2 separate regions of the Homo sapiens genome follow, and region 1 is linked to region 2. A link means that fine-mapping ties the variant in region 2 to the expression of a gene that starts in the linked region. Tissue or cell type: whole blood. Region 2 holds a variant in brackets; the other region holds the start of a gene. All regions are shown on one strand. Distances are between the middles of the regions.

Evidence for each region. PIP is the estimated chance that this variant, and not a neighbour inherited with it, causes the effect.
Region 1: it holds the start of CD44, and the variant in region 2 is fine-mapped to the expression of CD44 in whole blood (TOPMed, PIP above 0.99).

Annotation. Positions count from the first base shown.
Region 1 is chr11:35,135,160-35,143,342 of GRCh38, reverse strand. It overlaps CD44 (CD44 molecule (IN blood group)), which reads right to left and starts at 4,172. Exons shown (of 18, transcript NM_000610.4): 1 at 3,973-4,172. The coding sequence starts at 4,039. CD44-DT (CD44 divergent transcript) reads left to right here and starts at 5,311. Exons shown (of 3, transcript NR_120528.1): 1 at 5,311-5,645; 2 at 6,717-6,997. RefSeq lists enhancers at 2,775-3,275, 4,443-5,007 and a silencer at 4,463-4,532.
Region 2 is chr11:35,162,974-35,171,156 of GRCh38, reverse strand. All of the region lies in intron 1 of CD44 (CD44 molecule (IN blood group)), which reads right to left. SNORD164 (small nucleolar RNA, C/D box 164) reads right to left here; the gene lies at 8,147-8,183. Among named protein-coding and RNA genes, the nearest start is that of SNORD164, 4.1 kb to the right of the region's middle. RefSeq lists an enhancer at 5,069-5,128 and a silencer at 5,549-5,598. The variant A/G (reference allele first, on the strand shown) is at 4,923.

The DNA of each region.
Region 1 (8,183 bases), 28 kb after region 2:
TCCTAGAGACTCAGGACTTAGGACCCTGCTTTACACAGGACCATATGGTACCACAGCAGAGCATCAGGTTTTTAAAACTTTGGTGCTCCTGACCATCTAGCGATGTTCCAGGAGGTGCTAGAAGCCCCAGGACAATACAGAGAATCATTGTCGAACACCAACATTGCTATATGGTCAAAAATATATATCATTATTATTGTATTAAACTCAAATTGGGTATATTGTAGAGTAATATATAAAACTGTAATGAGTCTGTAAGGTAGTATTTAAGGTGTGAAACAAATGTTGTTACCCCAGTAGACCACACCCTCCCCACCCACTGCAGGGGGTGGGGTTGAGGCTCCCACAGTCCTCATGATAGAGATACATGAGAGAAATGCCCTGCCCTAATATCTTAACAAGTCGCAGAGAGGGGAAGTCACTAGTCCCTCTCTTTCAGATTTTCTAAATGATCCTTAGAGTTCCCATCTCTGAGTCTATGACAATGAGTCAGGAAATAGTTCCTGAATGAATGGAAGGGAATCTGTCATGAACTAAGAATTTCATGCTGTCCAGCATCCCCTCCTTTGTGGGGAAATTTGGGAAAAAACAAATGGAACATTTTCCTACTGGCTGCCAGCCTCCCACACAAGGACTTGTCACCATGCCTTTGCAGCAAGTAGATGTCCAATGTGTAAATGGGGAATACCTGAATTAGTTGATGCTAGCCCCAACAGAGATGAAGCTTTGCCTCTTTGCTCCTTCACATGGGAAAACACAGCTAAAGTTCTAACTCCCAGCAGGGGGCGGAGTCTCTAATGCTCAATTAGAGAGAAGGGAGCAGAAAGGTGTGTGCCAGCCCTAAGACCCAGGGCTCTCAGACGCTCTCCTCTTTCTCAACACCAGGCATGCAATTCCCAAGCAAAGATCCCCTCACCCAGTCTATCATTGTTGGACATTTGGGTTGGTTCCAAGTCTTTGCTATTGTGAATAATGCCACAATAAACATACATGTGCATGTGTCTTTATAGCAGCATGATTTGTAGTCCTTTGGGTATATACCCAGTAATGGGATGGCTGGGTCAAATGGTATTTCTAGTTCTAGATCCCTGAGGAATCGCCACACTGACTTCCACAATGGTTGAACCCTAAAACTTAAAGTATAATAATAATTAAAAAAAAAGATCCCCTCACCCACAGAGACAAGGAGATGCATGTGCATGAAGGACTCATCCCCCCTGGCCTCCACCAAGGGCCACTTTCTTCCTCCTGCACAAGACCCCGAATTCAAGATATCTGTTCCCCAACTCAGAGTTTCTGGGTCCAATGTCACTTAACTACATTTGGCCATTTCTCCACTTTTTGCTTTCCCATACAAAGACTGGACTCCTCCTCAAAGCCTTGCTCCTTTCCAAAGTTTCCTCGTGGTTGTCCAGAGTCCACCACTCCCCAGAATGGGGCAACAAGAGCTCCTTTCCTTCCCCTTTCCTCCTTCTCCCCTTCGCCACCCACACCATGCCCAGCCCCAAGCCCTCTGACAAAGTCATGTCTCCTTTCCAAGTCCCAGTTCCTGCCAAACAACTTTACAAGCACATGAAAGCGAGGGCCGGGGCAGTTATTGCTACTGGCACTTCATTGTACTTCCTCTAAATGATGCTGCGCAAAGGGGCCGTGGAAACACGGGGCAGGAGGGAGACTGCGGGTCTCTGGGAGAACCTCAAGGGTTAGGACAGTGCCAAATATTTGGAAGTGGGGCCTTTTAGAAGGAACGGGGAGACAGGTTGGAAGGAGTCAGGAGTCAGAATGCCCAAAGACAAAGCAGAAGATGGCACTGGTAGGTAACATACAAATAAACTTCCCTAGAGACTATAGGGAAACCACCAGGGCCCTCTTCTTTCAGGCCAGGCCCAGGGCTCTCCCTGATCTCCAGCTTGACTCTTCTCTCCCATCCTGAATGTTTCCACTTTTCAAGGGCTTATTTGAGCTCCAGTCCCTTTTGGAACTTTCCCTAAGGCCTAGAGTCCACCAAAATCCTTCCCTCCCTGAAATCCTTCCAAGTTCGTCCATCTTATACAGTCTAACATATTCTAAGCCTAGGCTTTGGAGCTCAGTGGAGCTGGGTTTCCATCCAGCACTGCTCCTGGCTATGTGAATGCCAGCAAGTCACTTAACGTCTCTAAGCATCAGTTTTCCTCCTGTCAAACAGGCCTGATAACAGGAAGCTTCTTACTAGGCCATTGTGAGGGTAGAATGAGATAACACATGGAAAATATTTAACATAATGCCTGGCACAGTGAAAATATACAGTAAATGGTAGCTAGCACTGTATTCATTTTTTTTTTTTTAACAGAGTCACGCTTTGTCACCCAGGCTGGAGTGCAATGGCATAATCTTGGTTCACTGCAACCTTCACCTCCTAGGTTCAAGCAATTCTCCTGCCTCAGCGTCCCAAGCAGCTGGGACTACAGGTGTGCACCACCACACCCTGCTAATTTTTGTATTTTTTGTAAAGATGGGGTTTCACCATGTTGGCCAAGGCTGGTCTCAAACTCCTGACCTTGGGTAATTTGCTGCCTCAGCCTCCCAAAGTCCTAGGATTACAGGCATGGGCCACCATGACAGGCTGTGTTGTTGCTATCATTATTATTATTATTTCAGCTTCAGTAGTATAAATCCTAGATCCCCAAATCCCCACCTAGCAAAGACCTCTCACTCACACAGAAAGGGAGATGCATATGCACAGAGAACTCATCCTGCCTAGCCTCCACCTAGGGTCACTTTCTTCCTACTGCAGAAAGTAGGAAGATAGAGAAAGCAGAAAGTAATTCAAGATACTTTATACTGGGTACTCAATCTAAACTACCTGGGTGAGACTGTGTGTTTCAATTTCTCAGTACTCCCGTGGAACTGGGTTAATAAATATTTGCTGAGTAGAATTTACTGCATGCAGGCTGAGCTGTCTTAATGACCCAGCTGGCACTTCTTAAAAGAAAGATTAATTTTGGCCAGCGATAAGCAAATCGGCCATGTAATTATCTGTACATACATAGACAAAGAAAGAGAATGCTTGGAGTTGAGCCGTGCTAGAATATACCTTACACGCAGCCCCTCCCCTCCATAGCCACCACAAAGCACTGACCCTGTTTGGATGAGATATTGGAGCCCTAGCTCCAGGGTCCCTGATGTTGCCCTGGTATCAAGGCTCTTCTCTCTGCTCTGAGGCTGCCAGGCAGGGAATATAAGCCACCTTACTGTTGAGATTTCCCCACACTGATTGGCAGAAGCAGGAGGTGGTGAGGACCAAGCAGCTGGTCCAGTGGTTGCCTCTCATATTCATGCTCCCTATCCCAGGCTGGAATCTCATGGAGACCCAAGACCTCACCGCAGAGCTGGTTCAAGCTTCCACAGCGCTAAGGTGGCAGTGACACTGCGGACTGTAAGCTTTGGAACAAGGCTCAGTGGGGAGCTGGGAGAACCCAGGACCCCTTTCTGGAAAACCCATTGCCAGCTAGTCTCACACTTGGAATTGTGATCCCTTCTGTGACCACCTTGATAACAGCCACTCGCCCTGTTCCAGCCCCAGTCTCTGCCCCGCCCAGCTCTGCCCTGCCTAGACACAGCCCGGTGGGGCTTGGCGAGCCCTTGGGCACAGGAGCCTGTTAGTCCAGACAACGACTGTGCGCATCCGGGAGAACGGTTACTTTCTGCCATGTGCTGCAGCTCTAGCGACCTCGCCCAAAACTGCGCGCCGGCAGCCTGCCCAACAAACTTTCTTCTCTTTCTCTTTTTCTTTCAACCAAATGGTGCTTCCACAGACACATTCTCCAACGGTTTAGCGCAAATCCCAGCCCTGCTTTCCGGAGCCCAATGCACTTCGCAGACAGCTCACTTGACTCCAGTCCCCCAGGGCCGACTCAGCCGGAGGGGCTGCCGCCGGGTCCGCGCTGAGCACCCCGCACCCATCTTGCTGCCCAGGCTGCGGCGGGCACTCACCGATCTGCGCCAGGCTCAGCGGCACGAGGCAGAGTCCCCAGGCTGCGTGCCACCAAAACTTGTCCATGGTGTCCGGAGCGAACGGAGGGCGCGGGCGAAAGGAGCTGGAGGATCCCTGGGCGCGGGGCAGGGGCCGGCGGAGGACGGGACGAGGATGGCGGACCGAACCTGGCAGAGGCTGGGGTCCGCTGGGCAATGAGGCTGCCTCGGAAGTTGGCTGCAGTTTTTATTCGAGGTTGAAAACAGTGACCTAAGACGGAGGGAGGGAGCGAGCGAAGGACACACCCAAGCAAGGGGGGCTGTGACTAAGCAGCCCGCAGAGGTTTTAAGAAGTAGCAGCCCTCCCGGGCGGGCCCCTCTGCCCCCGCCCCGTGCTCTGCTGAGGCTGTAAATAATCGGGGCTGCCAGGGACGTGGGTCGGGGAACCTGGAGTGTCGCGGGGTGCCTGTGCCTCCGAGCCCCACTGGCCCCTGCGCCCAGAGACGCACTGGCTTTCTTCTCCCGCTGGCCCCGCGGCGTCAGGACAGAGGATGACCGAACCGTAAAACCTTGCACCATTGGGTTCAGCCTTTGGCCTCTCCTTTCCCGCTAAATTTCTCTGAATCCGGCTGGAGCAAGATCTCTGGGTTTCACAGGATGTTGGATATCCTGGGAGAGGAGCTGGAGAGAGGGCGAGGTCTTGCCCTGGGTGGCGCAGTGCCTCCGTGCCCACAGTGGGGAGTGAGGGGTGGGGAGTTGGTGAATCTTCCAAGTGGAAAGAGGGAGAGCTCATTCTTTTTCCCCTCAATAACAAGTCCACATGGCTTGAATGAATTTTAGCTTCTTGGCAGAACAGCTCAGGGAAAGCTACTGATGGCCTGTCATAGGGCTGGCATTTGGCTCAGCTAACCCATGTGTTCAAGCCAGTGTGAATGGGCACCTCTCTCCACACACATGCTCATTCATCCTCCTAAATATCCTTCCATCCGCCCATCCATCTATCCACCCATCTTTCCTTATGTCCTTCTGGGGCTCTCACATCCATCCATCCTCCTGTCCATCCACTAACCACTTAGGTCCATCTATCATCCCACTCATTCATTCATCCAACCACACACCTTTTAATTTATTCAACCACCTATTCTTCTATTCATCTTCCCATACAACTTCTCATCCATCATTCCACACTTCCTTTTTCACATCTCTTCATAAAACCACAACCATCCACCATCCTCTTCTCCACCCATCCACCCACATATCTGTTTATTGATATATCCACTCATTTCCCATCTGTCCAAGATCAACATATCCACCTATCATTTTATCCATTCTCTCATCCACCCATACGTTCATCTATTATTTTTGCCCCCATTATCCTCCTTTCTGTGTAAACATTAATTCATTTTCTCCCATCTTTCCTACCCAGCAGATCTTAAAGAGAGGAAGAGTTTGTAATATTCTTCAGGGGAAGCCTTTTGAGATTGAAATATCATACTTTGAATGATAACTCTATATCTATCTATAATATACTATGGTTTAATGTTTGGAAATCAAACGCAGTATTTATTTGTCATGTGAACTACTAAAAGTAAATCTGCATGGACTTCTTGCCTGGTGAGTTACACAGAAAATGAAAGTGATTATCAGTGGCTGTGGCAAGATGAAAGGAACCATGCCAGGACTTCTGAGGGAAGGTAAGATTTTGTTATTTATTTCAAGAAATTGAAAAGTTGAGAGAAATGCACCCAGCCATCCCCCTATGCATTCATTCATCAGACATGTAATGAGTGTTGTGGGGTATCGAGGTAAATAAGACCTGGCGCTATCTTCAGAGCCCTCACCCTCTGGTACGGAATAAAACTCACAAGCAGGCCATTACCATGCAAGGTGAAATATGCTGCAAAATGTGTGTGTTTGGGGTGCTACCATTCCTAGAGAAGGGAGTCACACTCTCTCCTGGAGAACACCAGGCAGTCTTCACAGGGGAAGTGATATTTGAGGCAGGCCTCAAAGGAAAAGGAGGAGGAATTCTTCAGATGAAACTACAGGGACAAGTAAGTCATCCACAGGCAGTACAGTGTAGTGACGAACAGCATGGATTCAGGAGCTAGAACACCTAGATCCAAACCCTATTATGGCTGCTTCTTAGTTGTGTGACCTTGCCTAAGGCAATTAGCTCAATTTGCTCAAGTATAAAATGGGCTTAATAATAGTATCTATTATTACTATTACAATTCTATTACTTCATAGAATTGGTGAGGATTAAATGACTCAAAAGCCCTGCATGTATTAAGCCGTAGATTTATGTCTACATATGCATGCAGTAAGCACTTTAAATAAGTGTTTGCTATCATTACTAAAAGCAAAATTGTGTTTGAGCATAGAAAAGTGAAAGAACATGGCTTGTCCAGAGAATAGAGAGCAATGTGAGCTGATCTGAACATAGATCAGATGAAGGGGCTGGGGGAAGATAGCAGACATGAGGTTACAGGTATGGGGACTACAAGGTGTAAGCTATGCCAGGGAGTTTGAACTTGACCCTGTAGGAAATAAGGAGGCAACGTACTTAGTTAAAATTATTATCATTGTTATGTTAAAATATGCATAACATAAAATTTACCATTTCACCCATTTAAAAGTGTTTATAGCAGTGACGTGTAGTACTTTAACAATATTGTGCAACCACTACCACTGTCTAGTCCGGTATAAATTTTTCAGTTGTGGAGATTCTGTTTGACTAAAGACTACTCCTCTTGCATTTTCAGGAAGAGTGTTTGGGACTGAAAAATCCTTGTCTGGATCTAGTCCTCAGCCACTCAGAAGCTGGCATGCCATGACTCAAAGAGCCGCCCGTCTGGAATGAAGACAGTGACCCGTAACTCCCACCTGAAGAGCAGGTGCTTGGAAAATGCTGCCAGTCCGCAGGAAAAAGTTGTTACTGCTGCTGTCTGTGACCAAGAGGACACTTTATTTCTTGAAACAACTGGGGGCAAACTGGCTCCCAGATAAGGCTTCAGTCCCTACTCATGTGAGGAAACCAGCCCTGGTAGGTTCCATGCACAAGAATACAGGACAAGGAGCAGCTTTTTTCACCTCATGCAACCTCCAGGGATTTCAGCTTCCTTTTCTTGGAGCAAGAAAGTGAAGTGACGTGGGGAGTCACTAGGAACAATGTCTGTCTTACTGTGTTTCATGGAACCTGGAGGTTCCTTAGAGACCCCTCAGAAGCAGACCTAGTGGTCAGAGTAAAAGCTGAGGAGTAAGCTGTGCCTCTCCCTCCCCAGGCCCCATCCCAACCACAGAAGTTCCACTTGCATCAGTTTTATATACCAGACTATTGCATGAAATTACATTTTGACAGATGATTATTCTTAAAAAATATATAAAAACCAACAAACTAGGCCATATCAAGTCCTGGTCCCTTCTCCATTAGTGCAGTAAACAATTCCACCAAGGAAAATATAGGTGTGAAAGTGCTTTGCAAACTGTAGAAGGGCATGCAAATTCTAGGGGCTGTAATTAGGATTATTCTCCCCAGAAGCGGGGATTATTTTGTTTGCTTGCTTCCCGATAGTTTGGTGAGGGACTGAGGTCATTTGCCCCCATACCACAAATGACTCATTTCAAATAACAGACCTGGTGACTTACTGAGTCAAGGTCCACCTTTGGGAATTCCTGGATCACCTCTTTGAGCTCCCCTCTCATCCACTTTCCATTCTAAAGACACCCTGCCCACACCACTGGTCACACAAACCCTTCCCAAACTCTTAGATGCTTGATATCTGTTGTGTGTTGCACCATCTTTCTTTCTAAGCCAAACCATGGGATGTGGGAAACTGGAAAGGAAACTTGAATTGATTTGAGTTGACACGAGATTACACTATTTGGGAAGAATCCAGAATTCAATCAGCAGCCTTGGACCGAGAAAGTCCAGGTCTGAGCATTGGCTTTCCCCCTTATCAGAGGATGACTTAACCTCTGGGAGTTTCGGTAATCCCAGCCACAAAACAAGGGTAATCAGACCTTTCCCATAGTTTATTATGAGTAGTCAGTGAAAGAAGACATCAAGACCATTTCCTGGTGTGCCTGCCTCATGGTGGGACTCAATGACCTCTAAGCTACCTGAGAACAGGGACATGTCCTTCTGGGGTGCCAGCACATACTCAGCTCTCAGTCCCTAACATATACACTGTGCTCCATAAATAAGCATTACATAAATGTATGAGGGACTG
Region 2 (8,183 bases):
CCAAATTATTACCCGGGAGGATATTAATAATGCCAACAGCAAGAGCAGTGGCTAATATTTATTGTGCATTCATTGTGTATATGCCAGGCTCTATTTTAGGCACTTTAGAATTATTTACTCATTTTATCCTTAAAACATTCCTATGAGGTGGGTAATATTAGTATCCTCATTTTCCAGATGGAGAAACTAACACACAGAGAGGGGAAGAAATAAAGAAACATGCCCAAACTCACAATGAAGTAGAATTAAGGCAAGGTTAAGATGTGAATAGCCATGGACCACAGAACATTGCTTGACAGAGTGCCAGTGTCTCTGGCAATGGTGCTAGCCATGCTGCAAACCACTATAGAGAGGCAAGACTCCTCAGATGTCTGTGTGTCTCTCCTGAGAAACAGAGAACTCTGTGATTCAGGATCCACTTTGATTCAAGAAGCTAATACTAAATGGCTGATTGCATCTCTCAAACAAGCCTTTCTGGCTGGAAATAAACCAAGAATGTTTTCCGTTGAGCCCTCTGGTCTCCAATAAATCTCCTGCATCATGTAATGAATAAAATGTCCCAAGTGCCTCCCTCTGAGCGATAAATGAGCTCAACTGAAAACACTGACTGTTTGAGGCCACTTTTGGATTTGGAGAGGAGACTTCCCGTGGTAGAAATGCCACCAGGCCTTTAGCACGCTCATTACTATAGGGCTGTGGGCAGCACAGAGGGGTCATGGAGACCAGTGTCCCAGTGTCTAGGAACCTTATCTCCCTACCCACATGGGAAGAGGTCTGCTAGGGAGCTGTCAGGAAGGCGAGAAAAAGGAGCTCTGAAAGAAGGTTTTTTTGTCCTATAAAGCTGGTCTGTAGTGCCAAACTTTTATGAAGGTCAGTAGTTCAACCTAGTTAGGACCTCCTCAAACCTGGTTCAATTCCTGACCCTGCCACTCACTTTAGGTGACACAGGTTGTTAATTACTTAACCTCTCTGACTCTCCACCTCTTCCTTGATGGGATGACAATGCGAACCTGTCAGGGTTTATGGGACTATTACATGAAATAAGGTATGTCAAACACTTGATATGGTGTTTGACACTTAATAATCAGAGCCAATGAGCATTGCACACTTATTAGGTGCCTTATGTACTTCAGCTAATTTAATTCTCATAAAAATGCTATGAGGTAGGCACTATTGCTAAACCCATTTTAGAGATGAGGAAACTGAGGCACAAAGTGGTGAAGTCCTTTGCCCAATGTCATCCAAGTGGGAAAGTCAGGATTCTAACCTCTATGCTATGTTGCCTCCTATTCAGGCTCCTGGTTACAGGTACTATGCATTCTCTCCTGGATAAACCATCACTGATCCCAAATGCCATTAATCTCATCTATACTGCCCCCTAAGCCTCAGATCAAGGAAAATAGATCTCTGATAAAATTGTCCGAGCACATTTCAAAGCTTTGCCTAGATTGTAGGGCCTGCGAGGAATAATAGCTTCTTGGTCCACCCCAGTTATTTCTGAAGTTGTAGAAAATCACAACATGTGCTGGGAAGAGAGCACTGTGTAATTTTCACCCAAGTTGCCATTATCTACGTCTTCCCAAACTTTCCTGAGAGGTGAGTGGCCTGGTACTAGTATTGGAGCTGGGCTGCAAGGGATTTTCAATATGGAATCCAGGAGCTGGTCAATACATCCATGGACCTGTGAGATTATATGCAAGATTGTGTGTATGGATGTGTGTGTGTGTGTGTGTGTGTGTGTGTTTAGGTAGGGCAACATCTCTGGTTTTCATTGGTTTTCAAAGTCTGTGACACAACCAGGTAAAGAATTACAAGAAATTATTATCTTCAAGGTCTCTAGTAACCAGAAATTCCAGCATTCTGAAATTTTGGAACTTCTCTGTGGGCTTCGTTGACAACAGAAATGGTGTCTCCCTTCTTCACAATTATATTCCCAGTACCTAGTACAGCCTCCCATGGTAGGCAAATGTTGAATGAAATAATGAATTAATAAATGCTCTCTTTCTGCCCCCAACCCCCGACAGGCTGCAGTCTTATAGGGTGCAAAAAGATCACCTATCAGGTTCCTTTCCCACATCATATCTGAGGAATCACCAGCTGGTGTTTGCTGAGAATTCCTTATTGGATACTTAAAATGTCTTTAACCCAGAACTTTGCTTCTGTGAACATTTGCTGTTTTCCCCGAAAGCAAATGTTTCAGAGACCAACTTTTAGTTTTGTAACTGGCTTTGTCTGTCTGAATGTGCAAGCTATCATCTCAGTTACAGGACAGTATGTTCACATACCATCACAGGGCCATTTCTGAGGCCAGATCTCCTAGGGAACATGGCAAACACAGTACATTCCATATGAAGACCACCCAAAGACAACCTACAGTCATACTATGCCCAAAGAGAGGGCACTGTCAGTTCTCCAGACCAGACGTCTCCAGATTCTGCAAAATGAGTTAATTTGTTTTCTAACTTGAGCCACCCAGGTGTGCCTGATCCCTATTTGTCATCTCCTCAGGAGGGATGAGGCAGAATTAGATTTTTGGTTCCAGATTAAGCTATATGTAAGGAGAAGTTGCTTTATCATGAAGATGAGAATAAAGCCAGTTCCTGCTACTCAATGGTGTTCTAATTCCTGCAGCTCCTGGTCCATAACCACAGTGAGCACTCACTGAGTGCCTAGTCTGGGTTCAAGGTATTCAGCACTTTACACCTAATATTTCACTTAATTTTCCTAACAATCCTGTGTGGCAGGCATTTTTATTATCCCCATTTTACACAAGAGGTAACTGATTCATTGAGAAGATGTAAGTAACTTGTGCTAGTCACTGGGGGACCTGGGTTTCAGACTGGGCAATCTGGCTGATCATTTTCCAGTGTTAAATTCCAACTTATGCACAGGTCAGACACTGAAATGACAGGAAGCCCACTTACCCTTCATGTGATTTTTTAATAAAGTGTGGAGAGGTGATCATGAAAAGAGAGCCCTAGAGAGAAGAATTTGAGCTTATTGAATATTATTTTAAGATCAGAAGTCCCTTGATTCTGGACCACAAGATAGGGGCCTTTACCAAGGCCTGGTAAGGCTTCAGTGGAACAAACTTCACTAATGGAATTTTCACTCTCTCTCCAGAGAGGAGATTCTGAAGTCTTGACCTTGACTGGCTTTCCCCAGCAGTGGGCTGACTGCTTCTCTCTGATTCTGCCTGTTGGTCTTCCCATCATACTCTTGGGAATTTAGAAAGCCCAAACCTAGTCGTAGCCCCCAGGCCTCCTGCCCTTTACAGCCTGAATGCTCTCTCTACAATTAGGCAGGGCTCTTAGGAGAGGACTCCAGGACTTGGGGTTGGCCCAGGGTTGGGTCACCAAGGACACAGGCTGTCCTTGTGACATTACGAGATGTCTGCAGCCAAACCCAAAAATCTAGACTGACCAAGCTAAGGCTCCAGGTTGATGTAGCTGGAACATAGCTCTCTGGGTGGACTGCACCCAAAGTGATTGAGCTCCTGGGAGTCAACCACACACAAACCACTTGGGCAGCCAGAAGCACTGGTAAGCTCTCCAAATTTTTTATTTTTACAGTGTTTATCATTAAAAAGCCAGGATTCTATTTCTGTCCTCTGATTTGCTGAGCTCATGTCCAAAACAGATTGCACAACTAATAAATCTTACTGAGCTGGTTCTGATCAGAAGTAGGAAGGGAAAAGGACAAGGTTTTGTTGTTTTAAAGCATTATTGTTAATTGGATTATCTATTTTTAAAGCCAGGAGGCACAATGGGAAGCTTCTAACCAATTTCTCTTGTGACACAGGAGAAAATAAAATCAAGGATAGCCGAGTATGGTCCTCCAGCAAGTTAAAAAACAAAACAAAACAAACAAAAAACAAAAACAAAAACACACACACACACACACAAAACTCAGTGGTTCATAATTGCAGATTTCTGACTCCTACACCAGTGCTGTTGCTACTGATCTATCTTTCATAAGAGGTCTGAGCAAGCTGCTCTCAAAAAAGCCACAACTCACTGTCTTAATAGGACACGAAGAAGTCATTTTCTTCTTCATTTGTTCGAAGGCTTCAAAGCCCAGAAGTTTTCATCTGGGAGTCTTTCTAGCTATTGTGCCCTCTGCTGCCCCCCAGGCCTGCCAGTCTAGAAGGCTGGCACATCACTCGCCCCCATCTCCTGATGCCCATGTGATGGGCTCCTGGTGAAAGGGTGTATTGTTTAGCATCCACTTCTGAATGAGGCCAGAATCACACTTGGTGGCCGAATCGCCTTTGGCTGCCCAGTGCAGACCATGAGTCTTGAGTGACTCAGTCTCTCCCGGAATTGCCCTGGAGGCAGATGAGGGTTTAATGAGCAGAGAAAACAGTCATGCACAATCATACCCAGAGAATTTCCTCCAGAATGTGCCCTGGGTTGCTTTCAACTGAGCTATTCATCACTTGGCACTTAGAAATGCAAGGCACCCCAACGTCTTGGCGCCTGGCTGGACCCCCTGATTTCTCTGCCTTTTTTCCGTGGAGCCTGGAGCCTGTCATGGCAGTCAACGCTGAACCAACATGGAGGGGCCTGTCACATTGGAGAAGAATCCCAAGGGTTCTCCTAGCTGTTACCCTGGCCCTTCAGCCAAGGCCACCAAATGATCAACCCAATGCACAGCCTAGAAAGCTCTTGGGTTGTTTTGAGAGTTTGGAGAACAGTACTGTCCCTGTCTCCTAATGGGATGATGGGGACTTGGAGGTGAGGGTATGGAGAACTGTTTAACCCCCCACTCCTGGTCCTGGATCCAACAGAGTCTTTCTGGCAAAAGAAAGTATATGTCCCAGAACTGTTGCTTCACTGCACCAGAATTCTGTAACACCAAGTAGTCTTTGACGAGTGCGTCTTCAGGCAGAGAAACCACAGTACCCACCCCTGTGTGTTGCC[A/G]TGGTGATCAGGAAATCCTCTGGCCTCACGATCTTTGTTTTCTGCTTTTTCGGATCTTATTGATTTAGCAGATTGACTAGCACAAACCCAGGATGTGGTAAATGAAATGAAAAAAGCATCTTGGGGCCCAAATAGGGTTTTTCCTCTTGCAAGTAGAAAATAAGGTTGGGCCACTTGGTTTTGTCATTGTATTTTTTTTTCTGGGTAGTTACAATGACTGATACATCACCTAATCAATATACAGTTTCTGCTAATGTCTATAGCTGGCATTTTGTGGAACTGCTTAGCTTTAGTTTGAGGGAAGACTTTCGTAACAGTTGAGGTAGGATGAGAAACTGTTACTCATAGGTAATATCTATATTTCAGGGCTGATTCATGGGTTGCTGACATGCTGAGATAAGCCGGGGGCCCCCATCTGGGAGTGGGATGCACTGGTTCTAGCCTAAACTCTGTTAATTATAAGCTAATTATGTGACCTTGAATAACTCCCTGTAGCTCCCCCAGGCACACCTTGCCTTCCTGCCACCCAAGATGAAATAAAAAGTTATGAAATTTTGGAGCTTGGGGGATAAAAGTGAGAAGGTTGATGTGCATACCTGGGACAGTATTAAAATCTCAAAAAGCTTCTCAGAAACCTCATATGAATTAAGACACATTGGGGCTCCACCCTCAGCAGAACCGAATGGATTAAAGTACATCAGGCTTTGCTATTCTTGCCACGTAGCAGTTTCCTTCACCAATTATAAAGCACTTTCACACCCAAAAGCAGCCTGTGAGGCCCAGAGGGTAGGTACTACAGACCCATTTAAAAGGTGAAGAAACTAATGGACATAAGTTTCACAGACTCAAAGTCTTACGGAGAGTTTGGTAAACCCAGATCTCAACTCAGATTTTCCAGTTCTGCTAATTTTCCCCATTCCCCTCTGGTGCTGCCTTTTCAACTTGGGTTGTCAACAGGCAAATGGGACCAGTGGAAGCATTCAGAGAGAAGATTGATGGTTTTCAGATGTTTCTTTCTCTCCCTGACATGATGTCTTAGGCACAACCACAGTATTTCAAGTGGTTGAAAATCAAGCTGAGCTAATGGGGGCTGGAGTGAGGGTGGAAGGGCAGACCCAGAGACTCAATCTACCAGATGCTCATTCTCTTCCAGCACCCACCCTACCCCATCAATTGTTCTGGCACCCACCACAAAGCCCTAAGAGCCTTGGTGGAAAAGTCTGGAAAATACTGTGGTAGGGGCCAATCAAAGTGACGATGGCCACCACTTAGTAAGTCCTGCAATAAACCAGGGGCTCCAAAGCATTTGGAAACCTAGGAGGGTAAATCATCCCATGCAACGGACATACAAACAGATGCTCAGAGCAATTAGTACAGCTCAAAGGCTGCAGCCCAAATGAAATATATTGTGCAAAAATGCTATCCATGAGCCAGGCTTAGTATTATCATTTTTGTATTCTTCCCTTCATTATTAAGAACACAAATATCTTGCAACTTAAAGTTTTTCATAAAGATTGTCCCTTGCTCACTCTGCAGAGGAGATAGCAAAGTTTGAGTTTCCAATCCTACTCTAAGGAGACTGGGCTGGGTAAATAGTGGACTTGGCCAGATTTATACAATCAAAAACTGCAGTTAAGACTTGTTGTCTTTGAAGATACAGCCATCCAGATGGAGAGAAGCAAAAGGTCACCACCAATTCCACCAGAGCCCAACTTCAACACACAGCCCACGGCATCTCCAAATTTGATTTTCTTTCCTCTTGCCTCTTTTAGCATCTCCTTAAGTGAAAAAGAAAAGATTCTGCAATGTATGGAGCTGCTAATTTGTGTCAGATTGTAGTCTATGTGCCTTAATAGATGCTATACCTTGAGAAGTCAAAAAATCACCCCCATTTCACAGATGCAACAAGTGAGGCTGAGTACAATCCACTCAGCATCCTGCTATGAATGTGGCAAGAGCCAGGAGTCAAACCCCAGGATAACACTTGGTTTCTGACATGAGTTAGCTAAGACTCAGTTTACCAAAGCTGTGCCTCTCTGCTTGGGATATGTGGATTCTCACCCTGGGGCATGAAATGTATGTGAATGGTGGGGTAATGGATGTGGCTGTAACACTAAGGCTCTGGCAGCTTCTACTGCTGAGCCCCCAGCTGGGTTTTCCAGTGATATTAACACTAATAGAGTACCTACTGTGTGCCAGGCTCTGTGCTCGGTACTTCACATGAACTATCTCGTTTCAATCCCACAGTAGTCACATGAGATAAGTACTATTGCGATCATTGAAACTTGATACATATAAGAAAACTGAGGCTGAGAGAGGTGCAAGTTTGCACCAGCAGGGGGTGAGGCAGACAAATCTCTTCTTTCTCAGGGGCCACATGCAAATGTCTCTCTCCTTGCTGCACCTTGACTTTAGGAGGGTACAGACAAGAAGCAGAATCATGCCTCTTCTCAGATAGTTTTAACATCTTGGGTTAGAATTTGCTAATACCATGCACATTTAGCTGGGGGGAGGGAGCTGATTACTACTTTTTCCTCCCAGGAAGTAGCCATGAGACCAAAGAAGACAGGGAGAATTTCATAGAGAAATTGGTCTTGCACTGGGATTTAAGAGGCTTGAGCCTAAACAGGGCTGACCCTGTAGGGACCACAGCAAGAGGAAAAGCTTGATGAATGGACTGGATTTCTGCCTGACTAGTATAGTCCTCTAATTCTCCTATGAAGGATATTTGTTCTTCCCAGGACAGATGCCATCTGGTTCGCATACTCCATAGATTGATGCTTTTTTACCCCTTTCCCCATACCACCACTATGATTCACAGGGTGCACAATGCCAGTCACACTCCAATGGGCACTAACTGCCTTGTAATCCTAGTGGCCTCTTCCCTGTTACTCAAAGAAGCTTATCCGAATGCAAGCAAGTGAGTGTGCATGTTTTTCTAGGAACAACCATGAGTTTCCTTCAGTTTAGAAAAAAAAAAAAAGGTAAATCATTCATAACCCTTGGCACTTGGTGGCCAATAGCTCTTACTTACAATTTACCTTACAACCACCACTGACTTACAGGTGGATTAAAACAGAACAAGATTCATGCCTTTAGGTTATCTTGCCTTCTTCAAATATATTAGCAATGAAGTGATGCAGCTGCAAAAATATTTATTTGCAACAACAAAGCATTACAAGTGACAAAGTAGAGCTCTAAATTTCCACTGATTTCAAAGTCAGAGGACTCAGAAATCACCAGGTCACATGTTGGTGACTC